5 separate regions of the Homo sapiens genome follow, and regions 1, 3, 4 and 5 are each linked to region 2. The links come from fine-mapping of genetic effects on gene expression. A gene starts in region 2. Each other region holds a variant in brackets. All regions are shown on one strand. Distances are from middle to middle. Region 1 overlaps SLC7A8 (solute carrier family 7 member 8). Region 2 holds the start of SLC7A8 (solute carrier family 7 member 8). Region 3 overlaps CEBPE (CCAAT enhancer binding protein epsilon). Region 4 overlaps SLC7A8 (solute carrier family 7 member 8). Region 5 overlaps SLC7A8 (solute carrier family 7 member 8).

Evidence for each region. PIP is the estimated chance that this variant, and not a neighbour inherited with it, causes the effect.
Region 1: its variant is the best candidate, but not a certain one, in a credible set for the expression of SLC7A8 in monocytes after interferon gamma (Fairfax 2014, PIP 0.88).
Region 3: its variant is the best candidate, but not a certain one, in a credible set for the expression of SLC7A8 in whole blood (INTERVAL, PIP 0.88).
Region 4: its variant is the best candidate, but not a certain one, in a credible set for the expression of SLC7A8 in T cells (TOPMed, PIP 0.76).
Region 5: its variant is the best candidate, but not a certain one, in a credible set for the expression of SLC7A8 in lung (TOPMed, PIP 0.62).

The regions. Positions count from the first base shown.
Region 1 is chr14:23,152,541-23,158,363 of GRCh38, reverse strand. The region is part of intron 3 of SLC7A8 (solute carrier family 7 member 8); the gene reads left to right. It also overlaps the pseudogene RNU6-1138P. Among named protein-coding and RNA genes, the nearest start is that of SLC7A8, 28 kb to the left of the region's middle. The variant G/A (reference allele first, on the strand shown) is at 2,990.
Region 2 is chr14:23,180,850-23,186,672 of GRCh38, reverse strand. It overlaps SLC7A8 (solute carrier family 7 member 8), which reads left to right and starts at 3,013. Exons shown (of 11, transcript NM_012244.4): 1 at 3,013-3,909. The coding sequence starts at 3,759. It also overlaps a transcript of RNF212B not described here.
Region 3 is chr14:23,113,285-23,119,107 of GRCh38, reverse strand. CEBPE (CCAAT enhancer binding protein epsilon) reads left to right here. Exons shown (of 2, transcript NM_001805.4): 1 at 1-526; 2 at 1,286-1,802. The coding sequence starts at 17. The coding sequence ends at 1,621. Among named protein-coding and RNA genes, the nearest start is that of CEBPE, 3.1 kb to the left of the region's middle. RefSeq lists enhancers at 3,143-4,342, 4,508-5,226. The variant G/A (reference allele first, on the strand shown) is at 2,984.
Region 4 is chr14:23,160,029-23,165,851 of GRCh38, reverse strand. It overlaps SLC7A8 (solute carrier family 7 member 8), which reads left to right. Exons shown (of 11, transcript NM_012244.4): 3 at 416-567. Among named protein-coding and RNA genes, the nearest start is that of SLC7A8, 21 kb to the left of the region's middle. The variant T/C (reference allele first, on the strand shown) is at 2,857.
Region 5 is chr14:23,128,157-23,133,979 of GRCh38, reverse strand. It overlaps SLC7A8 (solute carrier family 7 member 8), which reads left to right. Exons shown (of 11, transcript NM_012244.4): 8 at 2,423-2,519; 9 at 4,181-4,330; 10 at 5,784-5,823. Among named protein-coding and RNA genes, the nearest start is that of CEBPE, 12 kb to the right of the region's middle. The variant C/A (reference allele first, on the strand shown) is at 2,527.

The DNA of each region.
Region 1 (5,823 bases), 28 kb after region 2:
TGCCTTCCATGTCCTCCCTAGAGCCCCGAGGGGTGCTGAGCAGGTCTCTGGTTAGAACCTTCCCCAGGGTGGTGCTCCCAGGATCCTGCTCAAAATTTTGCCTGCTCTAGAGCAGTATAACTTAGAAAGGGATTGGGACTCTTGGGAAATGTTATATAAATGCAACACTTTATTCACTCAACAAACACTTATCAGTGCCCATGATGGGCTAGTTACTGTTCTTGGCACGGGGGAGACAACAATAAACCGAAAGACTCTCATTCTCATGTGAAGCAGCAGCAGCAGATTTAGCCTTCTTTCTTAACACATATTATACTACACCCACCTGTGTGTCCTCTATTGATGCCGCGGGTAATACACAATCAGTCATACGTTATTAAATATTTGAGTGTCTGTTCTGCTCCAGGCACTGTGGCAGGCATGGGGATACTTAGTTTTTGTACCAAGGAACCCACAGTCCAGTGGATGTTCCTGACAAGTATACAGGGAATTTCAGTTCAAACTGGAGTTCCAGTTCCCCAGGAGGCCAGCATCCAGGCAGCTCCTGCAAGAAAAGTGAGGATGGGACTGGGGTTGAAGAAGCTCTTGGAGAAAGTGACATGTAAATTGAGACTGAAAGACCAGTTGGACATAGTCAGGCAATATTCAGCACGGAGGGAGGGTGGAGTAGAATGGGGTGGGGAGAATGTTCTAGCAGAAGGAATTAACATGTGTCAAGGTCTGAGGACAGGAAAAATCACAGTTGTTTGTGGGAACTACAGGTTGTTCAGTATAGCCACACCATAGACTAGGAGGCAAGAAATATATAATAGAAGCAAGGACCCCATCATGAAAAGCCTCATGGGCCATAAAGAGATTGGGCTTTCCCTTAGGAGGAATGAGGTTTGAAGGGTTTCAGACAGAAGACCGACATGATCATATCTGTATTTTAGGAGAGTCATGCTGCAAAGCTAAAGGATGGATTGGTGAGGGGAATAAGATCAGAGGCAAGAAAAGATGATTACAATTCAGTTGTAAGGATTCAGATTGCAGATGACTATCATGTGCATCTTGGGGCAGTGGGAGTAGAGAAAAGTAGATGCATTTGGCATTTAGGAGGTAGAATTGGTAGGCCTTGGTGATTAAGGTTGAAGGAGTCAAGGACTGCATGGTCTTGTTGGGGATACAGGTGAAGTAAATCAAGGACAACACTGGGTCGTATTGTCTGTACGTATTGTTGTATCATCTGAATTGGTGTGGTTCAGACTGGTCAAGTTGACCCCTCTGTCCTTGTCACCCTTTCTACTCACTCTTCAACACTTAAGACTTGCTGGGACTTGAGAAAGCATCCCCTGTGCTTTTGGACTCTTATGTCTACAATGGCAGAGTAAGTAAGTTACCTGAGAAGTCAGCCTTCTTCTTCGTTTCAATGTGCTTCAACTGCTGGCCCAGATCACCTCCTCTTTCCTGATTCCCATAGTGTCTCTTCTGCTCTTCAGCTTCTACTCTCAGACAGAAGTTCTGCTGTTCAGAGAGTGTGTGTGCCCACACCCTGGAAATGGAGGAATGAGGGGCTTGTTCTGGGAATATGTCTACTTCTGATTGGAAGAACAGTGAATGAGATTGAGGTTTCCTGAAACAGGAAACTGTTTTGGAGTTCAGCTTCCACCAGGTGTGGTAGAGATTTGCCTACTTTCTTGTACCAGCCTAGAAACTTAAATTCTCTGGCCTTTTGTTGCTGACTGTCAAGGATCACTTTGTTTTTCTCAGAGGAGCCAGGGCCCATGGTTTAAATAAAGTCACCCATTAATTGTGTCTGGTAAACTTTTAAGGGTTAATGTGACACACCAAATTTATATCACATACCTAAGAACATAAAATCAGAAGGCTTATGGGAGTGAGGCCCAGTGGTACTTGGAGCTTTGGGGGAAAGAAAAAAGGGCATCTCTGTTATAAGAGTTCAGCAAGTTGTGCTCACTTTAGCGGCACATATACTAAAATTGGAGCAGTACAGAGAAGATTAGCATGGCCCCATGTACAGATGACATGCAAATTCACAAAGTGTTCCTTATTAAAAAGAGAAAAATATCCGGGCGCAGTGGCTCATTCCTGTAATCCCAGCACTTTGGGAGGCCGAGGAGGGCGGATCACCTGAGGTCGGGAGTTCAAGACCAGCCTGGCCAATGTGGAGAAACCCTGTCTCTACTAAAAATACAAAATTAGCCGGGCGTGGTGACATATGCCTGTAATCCCAGCTACTCGGGAGGCTGAGGCAGGAGAATCGCTTGAACCCGGGAGGCAGAGGTTGCGGTGAGCCGAGATCGTGCCATTGCACTCCAGCCTGGGCAACAAGAGCGAAACTCCATCTCAAAAAAAAAAAAGAAAAGAAAAGAAAAAAGAGTTCAGCAAGTTTAAGTACAAGCTACCCTTGGAATTGGGTTATAACTGAACCGTTTTGGGGGAATTTTGCAGCCTGGGTCCAGGTTTATAGAATTTAGTGAACACCAACAGAGCCTACAAGCCTTCTGGTCCAAGAACCAACTAAACCTCACAGGATCCACACCCTGTCTTCCAAGACTGAAATATGATGGAGGGTCAGGCTAGCCCTCCTGGGCTCAGTGCAGACTCAACAGAACCCATTCTCATCCACCTTGCTCCATGTCTCGGGGGACATCAGCCCTGAGAATTGGTGTGTGAGATAGCAATTTTTCAGGCCCAGGCTGAAAAAGTAATGAGTAGGATTAAAATAGGGTTCCCCAGGGTGGCATGGCAGGCCACCCTGGATTTCTTGGTGTCCAGTTTTTCGCTTCTCCCCGATCCAGGCCAGCTGAGGAGCCATGTTTAGCTCATGCTGAAGAGAGAACTACTCAGCTCTTGGAAAATGCTGAGCTGGGTATTCCTGCCTCTTGGCTGAGCTAAATACTGGGTGGTGATTCAGCAGAAACCCCAGCTCCAGCAGCTGGCGCAGGAGCTAACAGGATAAGAAGGAAGGGGAAGAGAGAGCCAGGAA[G/A]GGAGGAGGGGAGGGGATGGGGCAGTATGGGCAGGAGCTTAGCTGGAAGTGTTTGGTAAAAGCTGTGTGCCTCCAGGAGCACTCACAGCCCTCACAGCTTCTCTGCACCCTCCTCCTCTGCTGGTGTGTCCTTGGAAGAGAGAGGCCCTTCCGGAAGGCTCAGAGCACCTCCTCTCCTTTGGAGGGGGTTCCGAGATTTCTAAAACGTTGTAAGTGCTTCGAGATGAAAAGGGCTGGAGAAGGGGAAATGTTACTATCGTGCGATAGGCAAGATCTGTTTCAAAACCACACTCCCCACTGTGCACTTTATAGAAGCTGGGATCAAAGCGCAGTTTATGAGGAAGGGCTGCTTTGATTTTTTTTTTTTTTTTTTTTTGTCTGTTGTGTGGCTTTTTGTGGGTTTTTTTTTTTTAACGTTTTTCTCTTTCACCAGTCAAGTTATATGTATAACTTTATCAGACAAGTTATGTTACATGTACAATAATCCAGGTGCGGAAGGACTTTATAATGTGGGCCCCTCACCCGCTCTAAAAAATGTCTTGAGGTGGGGGTGGGCGGGGAATAGAGAAGGATTCTAGGAGGGTTCTGTGAAGCTGGATCCGTGTCTGCCCACTCCCCCACACCTCCAGGCCTCTCTGGGTCTTTGACGAGGAAAGACTGTTCCGTGTGGCCTGCGTGGGCAGAACTGGAACCTTATCAGAGCCTTGGGTTGTGTGCGTTAGAGGTCAAACAGGCCTCCGTGTTTTCTTTGCCTATCAGCGCCTTTTGGCAGCCGGCACTGCTTACCTCCTAGATCTGGAAACGCCTGCGGTTGGACAGGCCAAGCCGAAGCGGCTTTTCCACAATTAGAAACACGTGCTCAGTTCCTTCCACAAGCGGGGGAGGCGGCCAAGGAACTCGGTGCAGCCAATCACAGAGCCGAGCGTAGCCACACCCACGCCCCCACAGGCCCGGCTTCCCTGCCCAGCGGCTCCAACCTCCAGCCTGGGCACCCAGACCCAGAGGGCTGCTGGGAGGGACATGCCTCACCCCTTTTGCTCCAGCTGGAGGGGAGGGAGTCTGTGGGAGCTGGCCAGAGCGTGGCAGAAGGCAGAGAAGTGAACGCCCCAGCAAAAGGTGAGGCTGAGAAGCCAACCCTTCTGGCAGGCCATGACCCAGGTGAAATTTATGGCGTTTCAGAGGGCTGGGGAGCTCCATCCAGAAAGGTGCCTGTTTTGCAGGTTTGGAGAGGAACAGGGCGTTCTGATTTCTACAAAGTGGCGTCACTGCTTCCTTTTTCAGCAACCGTCTGCTTAGTACATTCCATCTTGCTGTTTTCAGTCCTGGCCTCTCTCTGTTCTGCTCCTCTCAAGCCCTTTTTCTCTCCCACTCATCTGCATTGTCCTCCCCTTGCTCTCTCCCGCCCTGTGGTTTCTTGTGCTCTTTCCCTCTCTTCTTCACCATCTGTCTTTATGGACTTTGGCAAGTCTGGACATTTTTCCCCCTTTCTACTGCCTGTTTTCACTTATCTGAACAGACAAGGAGGAGTGGCCTGGTTCTGGAAATGTTAAAGGAAAACCAAGCCTTTCCAAGCCAGTCCAGTCCACTCCTGAGAAAGGTGCAAGCCAGCGAGACCGAGAAATCCAAATGGAGTTCCGGGAGTTTGGAGGGAACATGTGACTGTGACATTGATTAAGGGGGCTGGTGGGAGGGGACCCAAGGTGGAGATCCCTGTGGGAAATGACTTTCTAAAGCCCTGGGAGCAATGGATGCACCTTTCTTGGTTTCTGAGGCATAACTGTGAAAGTCTTCCCCTTTTGCCATATTGGCATCTTCCTTCCTGCTGCACAGAAAGCAGTCCAGGCTGGGGCTAACCAGTGTCTTGGTGACAGACCCAGAGTCCCAAGTGGCACTGGCAGTAGTGACCATGGGTACCACTGACCCAAGCAGGAGGAGAGATGATGTGGGAGCGGCCAAGGGAAAGCAGAGTGATCTGTGTATAATGAAGGAAGGCGGGGCAGAGGCAGAACAAGCAACTGGGAATTGGGCTGTCCCAGTCTGGTCTTTGCTGCGAATTAGCTGGGGTCTAAATTCACTCACATATAAAATGAGGTTCTGGGGCCGCCATGGTGGCTCACAACTGTAATCCTAGCACTTTGGGAAGCCGAGTCAGGCAGATCGCTCAAGCCCAGGACTGGGAAGCTGCAGTGAGCTATGATCATGCCACTGCACTTCAGCCTGGGCGACAGAATGAGACTCCCATCTGTAAAAGAAAAATAAAATGAGGTTCTGGGTCTCTAAGGTCATTCCTGCCTTCTGATCACCCATGAGGCTGGACACAAGCCTTGGGTGGTAGGGCGCAGGCTTCAAATATTTACCTCTAGGGCCAAGAGTTGACTACAAGGAGAGTCCCAACTGGTTCATTCTTCTTAGCACTGTCCTTATAACAACCAATCCAGCCCCGTATCCAGGTGGCCCTATCCCAACCTTTACCCTGTCAGACCAGAATAGTGTGGCTCATCGAGTGGCAGCTGGCTTAGTAGAAGAAATGAGATTGGTTCAGGGATCCATGTGGGAATGTTCATTGGCTCCCTGAGGGAGGCACAAAATGACCCCCTGCTGGCCCAGCTCAATGAGAAGCCAGAGTCCTGTATCCAAAGCAAGGGAGCACCTGAAAACATCACCGGGTGTGGCGGCTCATGCCTGTAATCGCAGCACTTTGGGAGGCCAAGGCAGGTGGCTCACTTGAGCCCAGGAGTTCTAGAGACCAGCCTGGGCAACCTGGCATAACCCGTCTCTACAAAAAATACAAAAATTAGCTGGGCCTGGTGGCACACACCTCAGCTACTCAGGAG
Region 2 (5,823 bases):
TTTAAACGTAGAGAATAGAATAAAAATATAAAGGCAAATGCAGAATAGAGTAATCCCAGCACTTTGGGAGGCCGAGGCGGGTGGATCACAAGGTTAGGAGTTCAAGACGAGCCTAACCAACAGGGTGAAACCCCGTCTCTACTAAAAACACAAAAATTAGCCAGGCATGGTGGCAGGTGCCTGTAATCCCAGCTACTTAGGAGGCTGAGGCAGGAGAATCACTTGAACCTAGGAGCCAGAGGTTGCAGTGAGCCGAGAGCCGAGATCGCACCACTGCAGTCCGGCCAGAGCAGCAGAGCGAGACTCCTTCTCAAAAAAAAAAAAAATGCTCAAAATTTAATAAACATTAGTTTGTAATTTTTTACAGATTTTTGTCAACATATTACACCAAGGCTTTTCTTTCTCTCTTGTGTTCAATGTTAGTCACCTGGAATTTTGACACACTTAAGAGTTTATGTCACAAAAAGATTCCAACCTACAGAGAGGCACTTAATATAAATAATGCTCCCTTTGAAAGTGGGGAGATTCCTTTCCTAGCTTTGTTTGTTTGTTTGTTTTGGTTTGGTTTTTTTAAAGACAGGGTCTCACTTTGCCACCCAGGCTGGAGTGCAGTGGTGCGATCTTGGCTCATTGCAGCCTCAACCTCCATGGCTCACACGATCCTCCCACCTCAGCCTCCTGAGTAGCTGGGATTACAGGCGTGAGCCACCACACCCAGCTAATTTTTGTATTTTTTGTAGAGATGGGGTTTCACCACATTGCCCAGTCTGGTCTTGAACTCCTGAGTTCAAGCACTCCACCTGCTTCGGCCTCCCAAAGTGCTGGAATTACAGGCATGAGCCACCGTGCCCAGCCCCTTTCCTAGATATTACATCGCACCAGTAATCAATGGTAATAAGCCACTTATAAATTCCAAGTGCTAAAGAAATAGAAATACTAATCTTCAGCAACTCTTCCTTTCCAACGTGTGCACCTAGTACCGCTGTATTCCAAGAACGTATTTGATCCCATAACCCCCTTAGCTTCTTAGTTCATAATTTGAGAGGGCTAAAGCTTACCATATCGTTATCAGTTTGCACTGGTTTTAGCAAGAGACCTCAAATTCATCACATTCATGTTTTATCCCACATTAAGTCTGCATCATATAAATTAGAACTACCAAATATTACTGAAAGAACTCACGTTTAAGAAGCAGAAACATTATTTGTTTTATATGGTGATGTTGAAATCGGAGCAGAAGTCTTCAAATCTGAATGTATACAAATGAATCTATCAAATTTTTCCTCAGTGCTTTCTAAGGTTGTCAGGAAAGGCTAGAGGCAAATTCGACATTTTTTCATTTCCCATGACTCATTCCCTCCCATGGAGTTTCGTGCTATATATTCCCTGCCTTGTCTGGTTTTTTTTGTTGTTGTTTGTTGTTTTTTTTTTGCTGAGTCTTTCAATTTGCTGTGTCTTGAACTAGCAAAAGGAGGAGAGGAAGTTCCTCCCAACCTTTGAAACCTCTTAATACTTGCTGAGTGATCAAGGGGGCAGATGACTGCTGATTGGACTTTACCCCATTTGAAAAAGCTTTTGCTATGATAGCTCAACAAACCTCATTTTAAGGAATTAAGTATTTATTTTCCTTAAAACCCAAAATCTTTTGGAACATTTTCCAGAAAGTGAGGCCAAATTTTTGTAGTTAGGGGTCAGTTTGGGGGAACTTAATTTTTTAGGCCCACTTTAAAATTAAATAATTTTGCATAATATATTTAATAAGGCTAAAAATAACTTTATTTTAGACTTATAGTGTTGTCCACTATATTGCTTCATGCTGTTTTTTCGAAATAATTTACAATTATAAATAGACATTGTTGCTCTCACCTTAAGGCAGCAGTTTCTGAGTGAAATTCTTCAAGAAAGTGGAGGCATCATTTCGATATGGTAATAAGCTAGTTATTCTAACATCAACAAGTATGTTTCATGATCAGCGATATACTGATAATTCCCCATGTGTGCTTTTCAAATAGTTTATAAATGCAAAAATATTAGAAGTTGCAGGATCAGGGTTTGAGTCATTTTTTTTCATGTTTCAGCCAGTCCTAAATAAGAGCTGTGAACAACAAGGCTACCTGGTGATTTTGTTTTTTATCTTTTTGTATGTGCATGTGGTTTTTCTGGCTTTTTGTTTTGTTTTGTTTTTGAGACAGGGTCTTGCTCTACCTCCCAGGCTGGAGTGCAGTGGCGTCATCATAGCTCACTGCAGCCTTGACCTCCTGAGCTCAAGCAATCCTCCAGCCTCAGCCTCCTGAGTAGCTAAGACTACAGGCCTGCACCACTGCACCCGGCTAATTTTAAAATTTTTAGTAGACGGGGTCTCGCTCTGTTGCACAGGCTGGTCTCAGACTCCTGGGCTCACGTGATCCTCCCCTGTCAGCCTCCCAAAGCGCTGGGATTACAGGCGTGAGCCACCGCGCCTGGCGATTTTGTTTCCTCTGTACTCTTCGTAGCTCACAATTACGCTAAAAGAACCTTTTTCCCATTGTTAATTCCTTCCATTTCCCTCCCCCACCCGTCGATTCCCCCTATTTTTAGGAAACTCGAAGATGATGTCCTTTCAACGTTCTCTCCTGTATTCTCAAATACAGGATCCAGTCCTAAATATTTTTTAATACATTGGCTAGTTTATTTCTGATGGCATTAAAAGTATCGGCACAACTGTTCCCTGATTTATAAAGCTCACAGATGCTGTATGACCTGTAACATTATACTAGCTAATGAGCTCTCCCGGAACAGTTGACGTGGAAGGAGTTTACTTCCACTTGGTTGCAAGGAGAAAGATGGAGAAAGCGAGAGACGATTGCAAAAAGAAATAACTTAGTCCATTTTCTCAGTGCTGTTTGGGGGCTTTGTGCTAATACTTAAATTGCAGAGGAGGGAGGAGACGGGACTGAGGATGGAGGGGAGCAGAGGAGGCAGGGGCGGAGCCTCGGCGGGCGAATAAAACCCCTCGCTAAAGAGAAGCACGTTAGTGTGTGGAGAAGCCACTCTCCCGAAACCAGAGGGATGGGGCCGGCTGTGCAGTAGAACGGGGATCGAAAAGAGGAAAACAAGGGCACGAAGACCAGCGAGAAAGAAGAGGACACCTGGGAAAGGCGGAAGCAGAAGACGGGGAAGGGAAAAGAAACCCAAAGCAGGTGGAAACCAGATCTAGAGCAACACCGTCAGGTTCACAGTTTGTTTTTCTAGAAGAGAAGAAAGTACCTGAGGATTGCTCTTTTTTCCTACCGTTAATGAAAACTACTTTTGTCTTCATCATAAAAGAAAAAACTAAGGGGAGGTAAAGGCAGTCTCCTGTTTTATTAGGGGGAGAGGTGAAGGGAAATCCAGGCTCACTTTCTGAATAAGCCACTGCCTGGTGCACAGAGCAGAACCATCCTGGTTTCTGAAGACACATCCCTTTCAGCAGAATTCCAGCCGGAGTCGCTGGCACAGTTCTATTTTTATATTTAAATGTATGTCTCCCCTGGCCTTTTTTTTTTTTTTTTTTTTTAGCAACACTTTTCTTGTTTGTAAACGCGAGTGACCAGAAAGTGTGAATGCGGAGTAGGAATATTTTTCGTGTTCTCTTTTATCTGCTTGCCTTTTTTAGAGAGTAGCAGTGGTTCCTATTTCGGAAAAGGACGTTCTAATTCAAAGCTCTCTCCCAATATATTTACACGAATACGCATTTAGAAAGGGAGGCAGCTTTTGAGGTTGCAATCCTACTGAGAAGGATGGAAGAAGGAGCCAGGCACCGAAACAACACCGAAAAGAAACACCCAGGTGGGGGCGAGTCGGACGCCAGCCCCGAGGCTGGTTCCGGAGGGGGCGGAGTAGCCCTGAAGAAAGAGATCGGATTGGTCAGTGCCTGTGGTATCATCGTAGGTGAGTTCCATTCCTTCCCGCGGACCCCTCCTCTCCCCTCTGGTGGTCCTCCTGTGAGATCTTAACCCTTCGAAAGCATTATTGTTCTTCCTATTCCTTAGAAAAGGATTGTCAGTCACCTGAGCTGTAACTCACCTCCACTGGTCAAGTTTGAGAGGCATAGGAAATACATCATACATCTCTTCCTCCAAACCAGGCAAAGATTCTGCCCAGTGTTCATAGAATGGAGCAAATCGTGGTCAGAAACCCGGCTGATGATTAGCATTGCCTGGGAACTCCTTAAAAATACAGGTCCTGGTCTCGACACTTGGAGGTTCTAGTTCAATAGGTTTAAGGAGGGACTGAGGGACCTGAACAAGTTTGTATGCAGCTATTATTCCCAGGCTGGGGATGGGCTTTTAAGGTATATTTGGTAGCTATTTTGCAGTTTTATGTTAAATGAAACTATGGGATAGGTATTAAAAATAGCAAGAGCAATGCCCTGCCTTTTTATTTTAGCGTTTTCCACCTTATGCAGCACTTTTACTGTGTGAAGTAGCTGTGACAGGGCTGTTATTCCCATTTCACAGATGGGGAAGTTATGGAAGAAAAGAGGGGACAGATTGTGCCTCTCGGTAAGTGGAGAGTTTGCAGTTTCTCCAGTTGCCTGGTGGGGTCCACCTGTTTCTTAACAGCCACGGAGGACCCGGTGAAGCTCTCAGAGGGAATCAGGAGTAACTAGAATGTGTAGAATATGGAGTTGAGGAGGAACTGATGGGTAAAATATGTGTCCTAGCTGGGAGGTGCTGAAGGTGGGGAACCTGGGTGGCCCCAAGAGTGCCAGTGCAGGCCACTCAAACCCCCTGAATGTACTTTGCAGGGCAGGAGTCCCAAATACAGCTTCGTCTCTAGACAGCACATCCTCTTTCCAGAGAAGCCTTGGAGATGGATGGCAGGCAATAGCTCACTATTCCTGCCCTCACTTCAGAGTGAGAGATTGTTCTGCTATCTTTGGTAGGGGGCTTTACTTTCTTCCCAGAAAAAGGAGTGCAGGACGGTCAGGCATAGATATGCTTCTTTGTCATCTCTCCAGAGTTCCTTTATGAGAGCTCGTTGTGTCCTGGTGCCCCTGAACCAGTTTCTCTGGCTGACGCCATGTTCTATGCAATAGCTCAGAGATATTTTGGCATCTGAGCAATAGTGACACTGGAGAGCACTCTTGAAATCAAATAAAATCAGTGCAGTATTCAGATAATCCTCTTCACCTCTACACCCAGAACTTCAGTGACCAAGCTCTCTTCAGTCTCTAAAATGAAATCCCATCCCCCCCCCACCCCCACCAACTCCTCCTACACCCTGGAATCCTATTTTATGTGATTCCCTGACTCTGGGAAGTTTTCCAGGCCATCTACAGTTATAAGAAAGATAATGTTATAAGAAAAATTGTAGTCATGATCTGAATCTCTCTTTACTTTTTCTCATGACATTTTTTTTGCCTCTCCTTTACTTTATCTCAATTGTTCAAAAGAAATGAGAACAGCCAAGTATTCAGTATGTATAGCACATGCCAGTTTAAGGTCTATAAATAGCCCGTTCACCAATTTGACTGACAGAATTAAGCATTTTCCCCCTCTAGGAAGGTTCTGACTTATACACAGATGCGCACGCCCACAGGCACACAAGCACAATTAAACATCCTTCCTGCCTCAGCCTGGCTCGCCCTTCCCAATATAGGTTCAGGTATTCTTTTTTTTTGTTCAGACGGAGTCTCGCTCTGTGGCCCAGGCTGGAGTGCAGTGGCGCGATCTCGGCTCACTGCAAGCTCCGCCTCCCGGGTTCACGCCATTCTCCTGCCTCAGCCTCCCGAGTAGCTGGGACTACAGGCGCCCACCACCACGCCCTGCTAATTTTTTTTGTATTTTTAGTAGAGACGGG
Region 3 (5,823 bases), 68 kb after region 2:
AGGGGGCGGGCCGGCCATGTCCCACGGGACCTACTACGAGTGTGAGCCCCGGGGTGGCCAGCAGCCACTCGAGTTCTCAGGGGGCCGAGCTGGGCCCGGGGAGCTAGGGGACATGTGTGAGCATGAGGCCTCCATTGACCTCTCCGCCTACATCGAGTCTGGGGAAGAGCAGCTTCTCTCCGATCTCTTTGCCGTGAAGCCAGCGCCTGAGGCCAGAGGCCTCAAGGGCCCCGGAACCCCTGCCTTCCCCCACTACTTGCCGCCTGACCCTCGGCCCTTTGCCTACCCTCCACATACCTTCGGCCCAGACAGGAAGGCGCTGGGGCCTGGCATCTACAGCAGCCCAGGGAGCTACGACCCCAGGGCTGTGGCGGTGAAGGAGGAGCCCCGGGGGCCAGAGGGCAGCCGAGCTGCCAGCCGAGGCAGCTACAATCCCCTGCAGTACCAAGTGGCACACTGTGGGCAGACAGCCATGCACCTGCCCCCAACTCTGGCAGCACCCGGCCAGCCTCTGCGCGTTCTCAAGGTAAGAGCAGGCCAGCCCTCCTCCCTCCTGCCCGGGGCTGGAGAGGCTGGTGTGGACAGGACCCTGTGCCCCGGCTCATGCTGCTGAGCCTGTGCTTGGTGTCGCTCTGTGAAATGGACCCAACCCACAGTCCTCTGTGTTCACACCCCACCATGACCTCCCTTTCCTTCTCTGTGAATTCATTCCCACCCTGAATCCCCACCCAAAGCCCCTGTGGCAAGCTGACCTACTTGATCTCAGGCCCCCACCGCCAGCCTCTCTGCTGCTCACCATGCCCCCTCCTCTTGTTTCTCTGCCGCCTGCTTCTGTGAGAAATGTCTACTGGTCATAGAACGGGAGACTCAAGGCAGATTGAGGGAAAGTGTACTCAGAAAGTGTGAGAGCATTGGCTGGGTGTCGTGGCTCATGCCTGTAATCCCAGCGCTTTGGGAGGCCAAAGCAGGAGGTTCGCTTAAGGCCAGGGGTTGGAGACCAGCCTGGACAACATAGCAAGGCTCCATCTTTACAAAAAAAGAAAGAAAGAAAGTGTGAGAACATGAAAGGGAGTTTTGGTCTCAAGCAGAGGACCCTGTGCATCTGGGTCACCATCTCCCAGAAGCAGAGCGATGATAGTTTTGACCTGAGAGACAGGAGCTGGCTCTGAGTCCTGTATTCCTTTGACGCATCAAGTGTGCCCTGGCTGCCGAGATTCCCGCCCCGCCTCCGCTCTGCCTCCTGGCCAGCCCTCACCTCTCCGTCTCTCCGTGCCTTCCCCTCCAGGCCCCTTTGGCCACTGCCGCACCCCCCTGCAGTCCCCTCCTGAAGGCGCCCTCCCCGGCTGGCCCCTTACACAAGGGCAAGAAGGCAGTGAACAAAGATAGCCTTGAGTACCGGCTGAGGCGGGAGCGCAACAACATCGCCGTGCGCAAGAGCCGAGACAAGGCCAAGAGGCGCATTCTGGAGACGCAGCAGAAGGTGCTGGAGTACATGGCAGAGAACGAGCGCCTCCGCAGCCGCGTGGAGCAGCTCACCCAGGAGCTAGACACCCTCCGCAACCTCTTCCGCCAGATTCCTGAGGCGGCCAACCTCATCAAGGGCGTGGGGGGTTGCAGCTGAGGCTGGCTGGTGGATTGTGGGCACCAGGCTCCCTGGCACGGCCTAACTCTGCGGACCCCCATCCTGCTGGGGGCCTAGAACCCTGAGACATAGACCATGGATAAATGGCAACCGGGGTGGCAAAGAGGGCAGGACCCAGCATAATGATTATATGGCTGAATAAAGTTGCACTGTGACTGGGTGTTGGGACTGTTGGCTGTGTGTGTGTGTGTGTGTGTGTGTGTGTGTGTGTGTGTGTCATGGAGGACCCTGGGGACAGAGGATGCATGTGGCTAGGTCTGCACCTCTTGTTTCCATGACCAAGTGGACATGTGGAAACACAGACATGCTGTCCACAGCCCACCCCCAATATACCACACAGCCAGGCCGTGTATCTGTCACTCTGCTCTTCTCTCCCTGACATCCCCCATCACCCCCTTCTGTGAGCTGAAGGCACATCCCCGCCCCCCACAGGACCTGGAGCACCTTTGTATGCTCTGCTAACAAAGATCTTCAGCTTGTAGGGAGATCCCGGCACCACACAGTCCTTCATGCCCAGGCCTGCTGATCCCAGGCCCACTCTCTCTCACCTTGAGGTATAGGTCTGGGAGCTCCTGCCCCAGGTGACCATGGGAAAATTCCTGATGGCTCTGCCATATTTATGGTCCCTTGATCCAGCCCGCCATCTCTTCTCTCCATTTCCAAAGCCTCAGTCTACCAGATGGACACCCTCCCCACGCTGCTCCCACCCATTCATTTCCATCCTTTGTCCCTCATCCCTGAGGCTCCAGTTCCCTAAAGCTTGAGAATTGAGTGCATGGGACAGGAATCGGTTGGGAAAGACCTGGAGACCGGATTTGTGTATGAGAACACTGGTAGTGAGAAGGAGGATGACAATCTGCCCGTGCCAGGGAAACCCATCATTCGAAACAGCATTTTCTTTTGCATTGGACTACAGCCTAAGAGACAGAATGGTACAATAATTAAGAGCCTCAGTTTGAATCTTACACTGCTACTTACTAGCTGTGAGCCTTGAGCCATTATGTCTTTCTGTGCCTCAGTTTCCTCATCTGCAAAATGGTTGCAATATTTGTCCCCACTCCGTAGTGTTGTTATATTCATAGAAAAAGAAAACTTTGCATGTAATAAGCATATTTATTATGATTCCTCCATTTTGCTGGAACTGAAAGGACCTCAGAGATCTCATCTAAACTCATTTTGCAGGTAAGAAAACAGGCTGCAAAGAGGGGAAGGGACTTACCTGGAGTCACACGATTGTTTAGAGGTAGAACCAAAATTGGCTCTGTAAAATCGCAGATCTCAAGATGTGCTGGGAGAGACCTCAAGAGATCATCTGGTGGGCTCTGCCCTCAGACCAGCAAG[G/A]TAGGGTGAGCCACATTTTACAGATAAAGCAGTTGAGGGCCAGAGGGGTAAGAGGCTTCTCCTGACACTCACTGAGTCCCTTTGCTGCCTCAGTACGTGGTACCTGTCTCTCTACTCCACGCTACACTCTTCTCACAGATCCTCAGTACGAGTGTCACATGAATCACATTCAATAAAGAACAGTGCCCAACAGTGTCAGGGACCCAGGGACAGATTACGGGCTTCTTAAAGTCTCTCCTAAGCCAATGCTGTGAAAGGCTGAGTCAGACATCAAGGAATAATTTTCTGAGAAGGTGAGAGACTGGTGTCTGGATCATCCCAGATCTCTCTCCCTTCTTCAAATCTCCAGCGGTAGAGCCCTCCCACACCTCGGGCATCCGTGTGCGGCATGTCTACCTTGCCCAGGACTCAGTCCTTTTCCTGCCTTTGCCTCTGTGTCTCTCGGGCACCTCTGTGTCCTGGAGGCCCGTGCCCCAGGTCTGGTTTGGAGGGAGAGATCTGAACCTTCAGTGGAGGGACCGACTGGAGCTTCCTGAGTTCAGAAGGAGGGGAGGTACCAGTCTCTGTGGGCACCTGGGAGAATCCTCACACCTTCCTTTCAGCCCAGGGGGATAGGTTGCATAAGGGGGGTTTGTACAGAACATGGTAAATGACTCAACCTCCGGATTTCCTCCTCTCAGCTCAAGACCACTGTCCCTTGACTTACTTTCAAGGTTCTGGGTGATGGGACCTGGGTTGCTTCAGCATGAAGCCCAGGCTTTGTTCCCACAGCTCTGAATTGCTTCTCCTCTCAGGCCCCCGCTCACCCAGTCAGGTCCTCAGGGCCGGTGCCTAGTGGAGCCTTCCTGACTGGCACCCAGTCTGGGGGAGTCACATCCCCGTCTCCCCACTGTGATCCCAGCGTGACGTGCAGCAGCTGAACACATCCCAATCCTCTGCATCAGATCATATTCCAGGGGTGTGAGTCAGAGCCAGAGGGCACACTTCCTGAAAGAGGCTTTCAATCTGACCTCAATTGGTTTTGGCCAACGTAACTTATTCAACAAGTATTTGTTGAGTATCTTTTCTAGGAATGAGACAAGTTCTCAGCAGAAGGAGTAGGAAGAAAAAGTCAATAAACAAGTGTGCTGAATGTCTTCCTTTGCCCCTCCAGAACCCTCTCCACCCTTCATCACCCTACACAGTCCCCAGGTGGATGCCTCCCTACATCAACCAGCCTCTCATGGGGTGGGGGTGAGACTGGCAGGAGGAGAGTGGTGGGAGCCCCCTGCTGACCGGCGCTCTCCACAGTCCCTCCCAAAGGATTCCTGGCCCTCAGGCGCCCCCCGTGCTGGGCTAGCCCAGGGGACTTCACCACTCCAGGAACTTTCCCCAGATACTGTTGGTTCACATCTTCATAAAGCACCTTAATTAACTTCTCCTGCTTACTCCATTTGAATAGCCCATTGGGGAAACCACATAAACCAACAGGTAGGGAGGCTATTTTAGCTGGGGTGGCCGAGAAAGGTATCTCTGAGGAAGTGACATTTTAGTTGACACTTCAAAAATTTTGAGAAGGAGGCAGGTATGTCTTTGAGTGTAAGGGTGAACAGAGGGAAGGGTAAATGCAAAAGCCCTAAGGTGACCGAGAGAAAGGAAGCCAGGAGTAGATGCTGAATGAAAGAAGGAAGGAGAGGATAAGTAAGAAAAAGATGCACCTTCCCTCCAGAATGGGGCTGCAGGGGTTGCAAATGACTATTTTCATTCCCTCTGTCAAGGAGGATGGTGCCTAAGAAGCCGGGGCAGGTGGAGAGCAGGGTTCTCTCTGCCCCTGGATTCAGCTTCCCTGCCCCTTGGTCCTCCTGGCACCTTTACCACAGTAAGGTTGTCCCCACTGGGGAAGGAGATGACAGAAAGGAGCCCAGGGAAGGGCAGTTAGCCAAACCCTGCCTGGGGAAAGGCACCAGGACCGGGGACTCGATAACGTTTGAAAACCAGCAAATCAAGGTCCAAACAGCACACGCATGCAGTCCTATTGCTTCAGCGCCCACAGCTCAGGCCCACTTTTCTTTCTGGAGCAGAACTGGGGAGCAGAATGAGACTCCTGAGCTGAGAGACAGGATCTTAGGCCACAGGGAAGCTGCAGAGGAGAAGACAGACTGTGGGGAGACACTGCAGAGGGAGGAAGCTGCCCAAGGTGAGTCTGCCAAGGTCAGTCAGCGGAGGCAGTGGCTTGTGAAAGCTGCCCCCAACCCCCCTGCTCGGTGCACACCTCCCCACCCCTCTACACAGATTGCCACATGCCTGGGCCCCCAGGGCCCCCATCCCAGTGTTGCAAGATCCCGGTTGGGGTTGTGGGTGGAAAGGGGCCTCTTCACCTCCACCCCCTGCCGTGCTCCAAGCCAGTGAGGGGACTATGGGATGAAGGGGGCTGTTCAGGAGACGCTGAGGCAACAATAGGCAGGGCTGGCTGAGAGCCTGTGCGTCTCCTCTCGGACAGGCCAGTCACTTCCCATCACCCTCACCAGCACCCCCCACCCCCCGCAGACAGACCCCTCCTCCCGACTCAGCATGAGCTGCTCCAAAATGGGAGTGGCCCAAGCTGGACAGAACCCCTGGCTGACCTCTGTCAGCTGCTTCCATAAGCAGGCCTGGCCTGGCCTCAGAAAACCTCAGTGGCATATGAGAAATTCTCCCCAAGGGGAGAGGGTGTGGGTTTTCAGAGGAAAATGGCTACAACTTAACTTTATCAAAATGGCCATCAATTCTGACTTCAGAGAGCAATGGAAAGGTCCCAGGGCCTGGGAAGGGGCAGGCTTCTTGATAGGGAAAGACCCACCACAGAGCTGTAGCCTCTTGCT
Region 4 (5,823 bases), 21 kb after region 2:
GCCAAAAGGTGTGGAAGGCGCTTCCCCTGCAAACCCCCACTTGATACCTCTCCTGATTATTGCTTACGTAACCACACCCTTAGTATGTCCTGTCTATCAACATTCTGGGGTTGCAAATTTTGTTTTTCCACCATTGGATGCTGGTGGCCACAGTGATGGAGAAGAGATCATGAAAGGAGAGGAGAGAAAGGAAGAACGCCAAGACTTGTGTTAGTGCTTGTGGAAATTTAACTCTTCATTAAACCATTTTATTGTCACTGCAGAGGGCTGGGTGTCTCATTTGTGGGTGGGGGCAGAGGCTGGGCTCTTCAGCATCCTTGAAAATAAAAAAGAGATGCATGACTTGCCCGGGCTCTCCCCTGATGGCTCTGCGTCCCTGCCATGCCTTTCGGCGGATGTCCCTTTCCTCCTTCAGGTTCCTGAGGCTGTGGATTGCTGTGCTGGTGATCTACCCCACCAACCAGGCTGTCATCGCCCTCACCTTCTCCAACTACGTGCTGCAGCCGCTCTTCCCCACCTGCTTCCCCCCAGAGTCTGGCCTTCGGCTCCTGGCTGCCATCTGCTTATGTAAGTGTCATCTGGGTCTTGGTAGCAAGACAGCCTCTTTTATTATATTTATTATTATTATTTTTAGAAACAGAGTCTTCACTCTGTCACTCAGGCTGGAGCGCAGCCGCATGATCATAGCTCACTGCAGCCTTGAACTCCTGGGCTCAAGTGATCCTCCTGCCTCGGCCTCCCAAAGTGTTGTGGTTACAGGTGTGAGCCACTGCACCCAGTCTGAGGGACAGCCTCTTTTATCCTCCCTGGAGGTCTACATGTCTCTGACTCTCCTAACTTCTCTCCATTTTTTTTTTTTTGAGGCAGGGTCTCACTCTGTCACCCAGGCTGGAGTGCAGTGGCGTGATCTCCACTCACTGCAACCTCCATCTCCCAGATTCAAGTGATTCTCCCACCTCAGACTCCCGAGTTGCTGGGATTGCAGGCGTGAGCCACCATGCCCGGCTAATTTTTGTATTTTTTGTAGAGATGGGGTTTCACCCTGTTGGCCAGGCTGGTTTTGAACTCCTGACCTCAAGTGATCCGCCCGCCTTGGCCTCCCAAAGTGCTGGGATTACAGGCCTGACCCACCTCACCCTGCCTCCTTTTCTTTTCCCCATTACTTTTCTTTCAATTTCCTACAAGTGTGTTTTTTATGAATGGATTCTGCATACAATTGTCTGGTGTTAAAAAAAAAAAAAGAAAGAAACTTAAGTAGCTCCTTGGAGGCACTATGATTTTCACTGGCAGGGTTCTTGACATTACGCAAAGCACTTTCACCTATATTATCTGATTTGGGCCTAATGACAAGTCCATGAGGTAAGCTGGGCCAGTGTTAACATTTTCCCAGAACAGATAAGGAAACAGAGAGCCAGGCAAATGACTTGCCCAGGGAGGCAGGCCACGTGGAGTGCAAGGGCTCCTGATTTCTTGTCTGTCCAGTGCACTGCACTGTGCTGGCTACTCCCAGCTGCTCCTAGGAAGATTACTCTGGCTTCTTGGCAGTAGGTCCACATCTACTTCTACCTCAACTTGTCAAGTCACACTCTTTTAACTCTCTTGGAGAAGGGTTTGTCCATGATCCCTGCCCTTGATGAGTTTTCTAACTAGGAGAAAAGCCATATAGACAGATACTGTGGTTAGGATTCAATTGCAGTAAAAATTCAGAGAAGGGAGCTAGGCATGGTGGTGTACACCTGTAGTTCCAGCTACCTGGGAGGCTGAGGTAGGAGGGTCGATTGACCCTGGGAGTTCTGGGCCACAGTGAGCTATGATTACACCTATGAATAGCCACTGCACTCCAGCCTGGGCAACATAGTGAGATCCTGTCTCTAAAAAAAAAAAAGAAATTAAAAACAACAATAACAATAAAATTCAGAGAAGGGGAAAAGATCTCTGTGGGCTGGAATAGGTTAGAGAGGCTTCCTAGAGAAGTTCTGCAGAGCCGTATTTCTAGGAAGTCTCAAAGCTTTATCTCTGATATTAGTCATCTCAATGGATTGGGGTATTTTACATCTTTAATCAAAAACTAATTTCTAAAGTAAATACTTAGATATGTTTCAGGGGCTCCACCTCTAGGGTTCACTGGGTCCCTGCCTTCCCATAGCTTCTAACACACATACACTTAGCTGAGGGCAGTGATCATCCTGGCCATATGCTTTCCCAGGTCCTGACACTTTTCCTTCTGTCCTGTTACGGGATGGGGGAGGAAGAGATCACTCACCCACCTCAGTAGCCTCTTACAGGGCAGGCAGCTGGGACCCAAGAGGCGGTCTCCTTGGCAAGTGAGCCCTCTTTGGCAGTGCTGGTCAACCCTGGGACAGACCTCCACCACCCAGGCCATTTGCAATATGGGGCCAAGACATTTGTTTGGGGGTGTATTCCTTGTGTTTGATCAGGCCTGCTCACAGATCTGGAGGCAGAGGAATGCAGGCTCCAAAACCAGGCTGCCTGCGCCTGCATCTCCAGTCCACCATTTCTAACTGCAGTGGTGAGTGCTGGGCAAAATCACTCGTCCACCCTACTGTGAGATGGGGAGTGTAATCCTAGCTGCCTCAAGAGGTCGTGGTCACAAGGACTGCAAGAGAGAAGGAAGGGGACACCCTCAGCACAGTGTTAGACACCCAGCACCCCAGTCATATCAGTCACTGGGGGTGGGCAAGATGCTGGGGCCACTTTATCCTTGCATCCTAGCTGGATCCAGAGTTGAGATGGGGAGCGGGGAAGAGCGAGGGCGTGGGAATGCAGGAAGAGTGCTGTTTCTGCCATCAGATCAGCTAATGGGAGGGTGGGAGGCAAGGCCACAGAAGTGCTAGC[T/C]ACTGCTGTTTTGGTGTTTCTTTGCACACAGACAGCTTCCTTTTTCCTGCTGATGCTGCTAAAGTGTCTCAGACAAGAGGCCACCCTTACCCTTCTACTAGAAATCAAGAACCCCCGAGGCTGTTCAGTTTGCACCCTAGGAGAGGAGCCAGGCCACAGGTTGAAGAAGTTCCCAGGCAGCCAGACCCCATGGCTTTCTTTGCATTCCCCAAATCTGCCAAGGGTTTGACCTCTTGCACAAAGACCCTCCAAAGTAGTGTAGCCTTTTTGGCGTCCCCTCGGACCAGAAAGGTCCAAACTCTCCTAGGAGATAAGAACGCCACCTGCCTGTAGCCCTGCTCCAGAATGACATGTTGCACAGTCCTCTCCACAGCCTTCCCCTCACCTAGACACTGCAAGGACCAAGCCAAGGAGAAATTTAGAAACTGGCTGATGACAAAAATGACAAGACCCCCCTCCTCTATTCCTGTAGTCAAAGATTCAATAAAGCTTATCTAAGTTTGGCCTCTGCCTTCTCAGCAGAACTGCAAGGAAATTATCTCCAACTTAACAGTAGCCAATCTTGTCCTCTAAAGACAGGAATTTTCAATGTCCTTGAAATATGGGTTCAAATATTTGTCTACCTTCATAAGCAGAAAAATCTTAAATCCTTCTTATTCCCAAGCGTAGTCTTCCTTATTTCCTTTAGGGGAAATGGAAACCAGCTCCACACCTGTCCCGCTGCAGTGTCCCTTTCCTCCTAGCTGTGAAGGCCATGTGGAGCTGCCATCCCTCTGCCCGGCAGGGTGCACACGTACATGCATTAGCTATAACAAACTTCCTCTCTCCCTTTCCTTATACCTGACACTCCCAGCTGCTTTGAGTCTGTGTACAGAGGTTCTGTTTTCCGGTTTGTTGAATACTTTTTTTTTTTAATCCACTTCTATAGGCCCCTCAAATCCTCTCTTCTTTTTTTGAATTTTATGGCAGGCCATACCAGATAAGCATCCAATCCTCTCATACGGTATTCAGTAAAACAAGAACCAAGCTGTCAGGAAGGCTTGGTAGATGCTTTTTTTTTTTTTTTTTTTAGATGGAGTCTCACTCTGTCACCCAGGCTGGAGTGTAGTGGCGCCATCTTGGCTCACTGCAACCTCCGCCTCCCGGGTTCAAGCGATTCTCCTGCCTCAGCCTTCCAGGTTGCTGGGATTACAGGCATAAGCCACCATGCCCAGCTAATTTTGTATTTTTAGTAGAGATGGGGTTTCCCCAAGTTGGTCAGACTGGTCTCAAACTCCTGACCTCAAGTGATCCACCCGCCTCAGCCTCCCAAAGTGAGGCCACTGCGCCCGACTGGTAGACGCTATCTTTCATTAAATGCTGGTACTTTTTATTCCAGCACCCCTCCCACCCACCCACCTACCCCCACCATCATCCAGCCCTCCTCATCCTCTTAGCAGGGGCCAGGCAAGCCAGCTACATAAAATAAGCCCAGCCTGTGTCTCTTTTGAGAGACGCAGTAGAGAGTTCCGGTGTGGCGTAAACATATGCACATGGGGAACTCTGCTTCCTGCTGTCCTGTGGCGACATGCTGATGACTGTGAAGCGAGAGGTTTTGAGGAAAGGCCACCCTCTGTGGAGAGGTCATTGGTGTATAATGGAGGGCACTGGAGGACAGGGCACAGGGCCCAGCAGGGAGAGCCTGTGTGGTAAAGCCCGTGGCGAGGGTTTGCTGGGGGAGGGAGGAGATGAGGCCAAGTCTGGTTCCATGGTGGGGCTGTTTTGGAGGAGAACTGATGAGAAATGAAGTTGGGAGGAGCCAGGTGGTGGGGGTGGAGAGGTGGAAAGAACCTGCTGAAACTGGCTTGCCTGCCGGATCCTGAGCGGGTCGGGGAGAGGAGAGGGAGAGGGAAGGAACTGCAGACTTGGATCACACTTATGCAACTGCAGCTGCCACTTCGAGTTATTCTATTATTTAGGTCAAAGCTGATTACTCACTGCTGAGTCAGCAGAATATCCCTAGCCACCCAGCAGTAAAAAAAGAAAAGAAAAAAAAGAGAGAGAGAGAGAGAAAGTATTTTACATTTTAATTAAATAAAAAGCCTTTCTCTCTTCTCCAGAACAAGTATATTAGTGGGAGTGGAGGGAGTTAGGAGGGGACTGGGAAGTGTTAGAACTTGGTTTTGATACCTTTTGTGATCTGCTTGTGTGTTTTTCTCCTTTTGTATTATTTCATGAGTAAATGACTATATTCCCCATATAAAAGATCCAAGTAAGATATAGAGCCAGCAGCGATAGCCGCCCTTATCATCAGCCGCTGGCCAGTAGCTGCAGTCCTAGTGGATAGTTCTAAATAAAGTGCATCTATTACTGTACAACTCTGGCTGCATGGACCTATGTACTGACAGGTTATTCCTACAGCGTGCCCTTTTTTTTTTTTTTTTTTAAGACGGAGTCTCCCTCCGTCACCCAGGCTGGAGTGCAGTGGCGCGATCTCGGCTCACTGCAAGCTCTGCCTCCCGGGTTCACGCCATTCTCCTGCCTCAGCCTCCCGAGTAGCTGGGACTATAGGCGCCCGCCACCACGTCCGGCTAATTTTTTGTGTTTTTAGTACAGACAGCGTTTCACCTTGTTAGCCAGAATGGTCTCGATCTCCTGACCTCGTGATCCACCCGCCTTGGCCTCCCAAAGTGCTGGGATTACAGCTGTGAGCCACCCCCACCCGGCCTACAGCTTGCCGTTTTATCCTGTAGCCACATCTTTTGGCTGTTACCTGGGTCTCTAGTTGTAAACAAAGCATCCACAATGATCCAGAGGAAGCACTGGGTCCAGGGGACACCCTTTCCCAGGCTTCCATCTGTGCATCTGTGCAACTCTGCATTTTCCTTTGGGATCCGTTTGCTCCCCATTCTCTTGGAGACTGGATCACCTTTCATTCAGTCCCCTCCTGGCCTCCTTCCTCTCATTTGGGGTTGGAGTCATGTCCAG
Region 5 (5,823 bases), 53 kb after region 2:
AACAGAGCAAGACCATGTCTCAAAAAAAAAAAATTATTTGCATTATAGTTTTCAGTCCTGTTTTTTCATTTGATGTTATATTTTGAGCATATTCTCATGTAATCAAATTTTTTCAAAAACATTATGACTACATAATGTTCCCTTTTTTTTTTCTTTGAGACAGAGTTTCACTCTGTCATCCAGGTTGGAGTGCAAGGGCATGATCTCTGCTCACTGCAACCTCCACCTTCCGGGTTCAGGCAATTCTGCCTCAACCTTCCAAGTAGCTGGGATTATAGGCACGTGCCACCACATCTGGCTAATTTTTGTATTTTTAGTAGAGACGAGGTTTCCCCATGTTGGCCAGGCTGGTCTCAAACTCCTGACCTCAGGTGATTCACCCACCTCAGCCTCCCAAAGAGCTGGGATTACAGGCATGAGCCACTGTGCCTAGCCCATAACATTTCATCTTATGCCAAATTCATTTTATCGACCTCTTACTTTTAGGCACTTACGATATTTCCAATTTTTTCTTTCTCTTTTTTTTTTTTTTTTTTTTTGAGACAGGTTCTTGCTCTGTTGCCTAGGGTGGAGTGCAATGGCACAATCACAGCTCACTGCAGCCTCAGCCTCCCAGGCTCATGTGATCCTGTCACCTCAGCCTCCCGAGTAATTAGAACAACAGGCACATGCCACCACACCTGGCTAATTTTATTTTTATTTTTTGTAGAGACAAGGGTCCACTATTTTGCCCAGACTGGCCTCAAACTTCCGGGCTCAAATGATTCTCCCGCCTCAGCCTGCCAAAGTGCTGGGATTGCAGGTGTTACCCACCGTGCCCAGACAGGATATAATTTTTTTAAACTCAATCCCACAAGACAGGATATAAATTTTTAAGTACAATTTACATACAATAAAATATGCAGGCTGGGCGTGGTGGCTCATGCCTGTCATCCCAACGCTTTGGGAGCCCGAGGTGGGAGGATCATTAGAGCCCAGTTCGAGACCAGCCTGGGCAACATGGCAAGACCCTGCCTCAATTTTTTTTTTAAAAAGCAGATCATAGGCTGGGCATAGTGGCTCATGCCTGTAATCCCAGTACTTTGGGAGGCCGAGGCGGGCAGATCACCTGAGGTCGGGAGTTCGAGACCAGCCTGACCAACATGGAGAAACCCCGTCTCCACCAAAAATACAAAAATTAGCTGGGTGTGGTGGCGCATGCCTGTAATCCCAGCTACTCGGGAGGCTGAGGCAGAAGAATCGCTTGAACCTGGGAGGCGGAGGTTGCGGTGAACCAAGATCGTGCTATTGCACTCCAGCCTGGGCAACAAGAGTGAAACTCCGTCTCAAAAAAAAAAAAAAAGCAGATCATAAATGTTCATTTTGATGAGTTTTGTGGGGGTTTTTTTGTTTGTGTTTGTTCATTTTTGTTTTTTATTGTTGTTTTTTAGAGGCAGAGTCTCACTATGTTGCCTAGGCTGGCTTTGAACTTCTGGGCTCAAGCAATCTTCCTGCTTCAGCCTCCCAAGTAGCTAGAAATATAGGTGTGTGCCACTGTGCCTGGCTTCCATTTGATGAATTTTGACAGTTGTCAAAATTCAACCACTACCCAAAACAAGATAGAGAACATTTCCACCACCAATTCCCTACTCCCACAAAGACAACTAACTACTCTCTGACTAGGACAAGAGTGTTTTTAGGCCAGGCGCGGTGGCTCACGCCTGTAGTCCCAGCACTTTGGGAGGCCGAGGCAAGTGGATCACGAGGTCAGCAGTTCAAGACCAGCCTGGCCAAGATGGTGAAACCCCGTCTCTACTGAAAATACAAAAATTAGCTGGGCATGGTGGCACACACCTGTAATCCCACCTTCTCGGGAGGCTGAGGCAGAGAATTGCTTAAACCTGGGAGGCGGAGGTTGCAGTGAGCCGAGATTGCAGCACTGCACTCCAGCCTGGGCGACAGAGTCAGACTCCATCTCAAAAAAAAAAAAAAAAAAAAAAATAGAGTGTTTTTAAAGCTTTCCATATGCAGTTCAGTCCCAGTGTATTAGGGAATCTGCATCCTTTGAGGATGTGAGGAATGCTTTTAAAGAGATGAAGATTTTAGGCAACAGACAGAGGCTGCTCCTGCAGCCTTCCAGGCATTGGGAACACCCCACTGAGTGACAGTACAATTATCAGTAACCCTGAGCCACCCATACCACATTCAGGGTCTAACATACCCAGGGTTCATCCACTTTTCCACTGGCTGCCTCTGGTTTGCTTGCACCTGCATTTGTGAACACAGGTTCTGTGACTGGTGGGGTGGAAAGTATGCATGTGAAGGCGGGTGCCTGGTTGGAGTGGGGATGCCCCTGTGTGGGCAGAAGGTAGGCAAGGATGAAGGAGCTGGGGCTTGGTGGTCCCTGGGTTATCCCAGGCTGACCTGCTTTTCTCCCTGACAGGCTGTTCTTCGCTGGAGCCCGAGAGGGCCACCTTCCCAGTGTGTTGGCCATGATCCACGTGAAGCGCTGCACCCCAATCCCAGCCCTGCTCTTCACAGTAAGGG[C/A]CCTTCCTGCTGTAACTCTCCACACACCTCCCTCTCTTTGTGCCTAGTCTAAGCTGGGAGTTCATGCTTTTCACACACACCCCTGTTACCCTTGCAGTCTGCTGCTAGGTCTCACTGGATCTTAGAGGATCTGGCAAATGATACCCATCATCTTTGTTAATATCAAGAGATATAGCAAGGAAAGATCCTGAGTCTTGAAATACCTAAGGCTCTCAGGCTGACTTATTTCCGTTCTCCCATCCTTTTGGGTCAGACTGAACTGACTGTCTCAGGATTCTACAGCCTCAAAAAAAATATATCTCCCTTGGCTCTCCTCGCACCTGTTACCACAGGGTTGCAGCACTGGCCTCTGCTCCTGGCTGGTTGGTCCCTGCAAACACCCACTTCCCCCATCAAGCTTCAGGGCAGCCTGCCAGTCTCTTGGGAAACATCATTGAAATGAAGTTAGTGTTAACAGTACACCAAATACGAAAAATAATAGAGGAAGACTGATAAACTGGAAACTGTGCAAAGGAAACTTGGGACAGGAAAGAGATGGGAGTAAAATATCCCCAGAGTAGAATCATTTTGAGAGAGCTATAGGAAGGAACAAAGACTTGTCCCCATTGAGTCTTTTGAGTTATTTTTATTTTCCTTCTGGATCCTGAATAAAACACTAAAAATGACTTTGGTCCACTGGTGAAGCAGTTAGCAATCAGAATAACAGAGCTCTTGGGAGCCAAGAGCATTTTACAGCATTGCTGTACAATTTCAGAATGTTCAGATGCAGGATGAAGGTCACCTTGACTGGTTGGTTGTCGAAGGTGGCTGGAGAAGACAGTACTCCCAGTGGGCCACACACATTTTTTTGTTTTGTTTTGTTTTGTTTTTTCCAGTTAGAGCTATTGGTGCAGTAGTGTGACTAAAAGGCAGATGTAGCAAGAACCATTAAAATCTTCTCGATTATTTTAACCATCGGATCTCACAAGAGAACAGAACCTTTTGTTGACCTTCACAAGTTATCAGAGGGGAGGAGCATGGTTCCAAGAGAGCCACAGAGATGATTTTGAAGTTGGAAAGTAGACTCTGTCAAGAAAACCTCATAGGGATGTTATGAGGGTTAAGTGAGTTAATCTTTGTCAAATGCTAAACATAGAGACCTGGCACACAGTAAGTGCTATGTAACCAGTTTTGAAATTAATAAAGAAAAGGAAGGAAGAAAAATAGATGACTCAGCCAGGAGAAAAGGATGAGGGCAGGAATACAGCCTTAATCTGTTGTTAACAATCTTCCCTAAGGGATTTTAAAAAAATGAATTTAGCTTGAGCTATAACCAACAGAGGCATACAAATGAGACCGGGGCTGACACAGAGCCAGGTAATACCAGTGTGGCCAGTCTAGCTGCTTATGTCCAGTATCCATTCTAATTGGCTAGTGCCCGTGCCATACGAGTGGTTAAATATTTTGATCATCACCCCTGTAATAAGAAAGGATTTCCTAGCAATAAAGATGTTGTAACATATTGGGTTACTAGGGGAGGTTCTAAAGTCTCCATTTCGAGACATCCATTATACGATGGCATCATCTGCCTGGAGGCTGGGGGACAGCCCCTAATCTGTAATACCAGTCTCTGAATATCTTTCGGATCACTGATGAGCTCCTCCCACTTTCCCAGTGCATCTCCACCCTGCTGATGCTGGTCACCAGCGACATGTACACACTCATCAACTATGTGGGCTTCATCAACTACCTCTTCTATGGGGTCACGGTTGCTGGACAGATAGTCCTTCGCTGGAAGAAGCCTGATATCCCCCGCCCCATCAAGGTGAGAGAAACTCCCTTTGGGGTCCCCTCCCCTTCCTCTATGGTTCTAGCTGCAGTTCAGATTTTTAAATCACCTCTGTTCTTAGCTGCTGACCACACGTCATCATCTCTGATGGTAGCAGACCCTTTGGAAAGCAAGGGCCATTTGTGAATGGGACCACTATTTCCATTCTCCACTGGGGATGAGATCGGAGCAGACTGCAGCTGGGGAATAAGTCAGATCAAATGTGACTTTCATCATGACATTCCTTTGTTTCCTACCAGTCTAAGCCTTAAACTCCAGCTGACTTTTCAAGGTTCTCTTATCTCCCCAACACTTCCTCCTTGTCCCTCCAGATAGCTGGGTTCACTATGTGCTATGTCTCCATCCCAGAATGACTTCCTCCTCCCATCTGCCCATCTACATTTTAACCATTTTCCAAATGCGCCTCAAGTACCTCCTCTTTCTTGAAGTCTTCCAGTCTACTGCAACCTCCCATGATCCTCCCTTTATAAACTCCCACAGTCCTACACATATAGGGTGCTCAGTGAACCTAATATTGCTACAAGATATAACTCTGTGATAGGAATTAAAGGGATTGCTCAGAACAGGACATGCTAGAGCATTATGAGTTCTCCTACGAATTAGAAGAATAGAGTGTACTCCAGAGCTATTTGAACAATCCTATTCTAGAAACAGTGACTAGATGCTTCTAGAAGATCCTTCCAGCTGAAAAATCAAAGGCTCTCCAAATCTCTCAGTTCCTCACTGGCATTTCCACCGCCATTTTCTACTCTCACACTTAGAAAATCTGCTAGAGGGAAGAGGAGGTAGAATAACCCCATGTCCCCACCACACACATCCCTTCTGAGCGAGGAAGACAAGGAAGAGAAAGGCAGCCGAATCAGGACTGCCCCTGGAGCCCTGAAGAGGATACTCTCAGGAACTCCCCACATGTGGCCCATAAGGAGCTGACATTTGCCATATTGTGCCCACATAAGGGCCCTGCACAGAAGTGGGCAAGGACCAGGGAGCCTGAGTGACTCGAATCGTCTCCTGCCTGCACCTTGTGCATTGCCACACCTCCCCTCCACCCTAGGACCTCAGCAGACACACCCATGTGCCAGCAAGCTTCTCCATCCCTGTGGGCTTCTCTGGCTGCCACGGGCACATGGCATGCATGATGAGGCCTTGTCTAACCACACCCAAGAGCGAGGACATGGGCAAGGAGGATCGTTTCCTCCCTAACTCCTCCCCATCCTCTTCCTGTCTGACCGACCATGTTCATCAACATTTGTTTATATAGCCCCTGCCCTACCAGGGGTGAGTGTGGGACCACAGAGCCGAGGGAAGCCCAGCCTTTGCCCTTGAGGATGTGTCTCTGTGGGTGAAGAAGAGAGAGAATGCCCCAGTCCCTAGTCCTGGGGGCCACGTGGCCTACACAGTTCATACGCCTCATGCCTCTGCTCCACAGATCAACCTGCTGTTCCCCATCATCTACTTGCTGTTCTGGG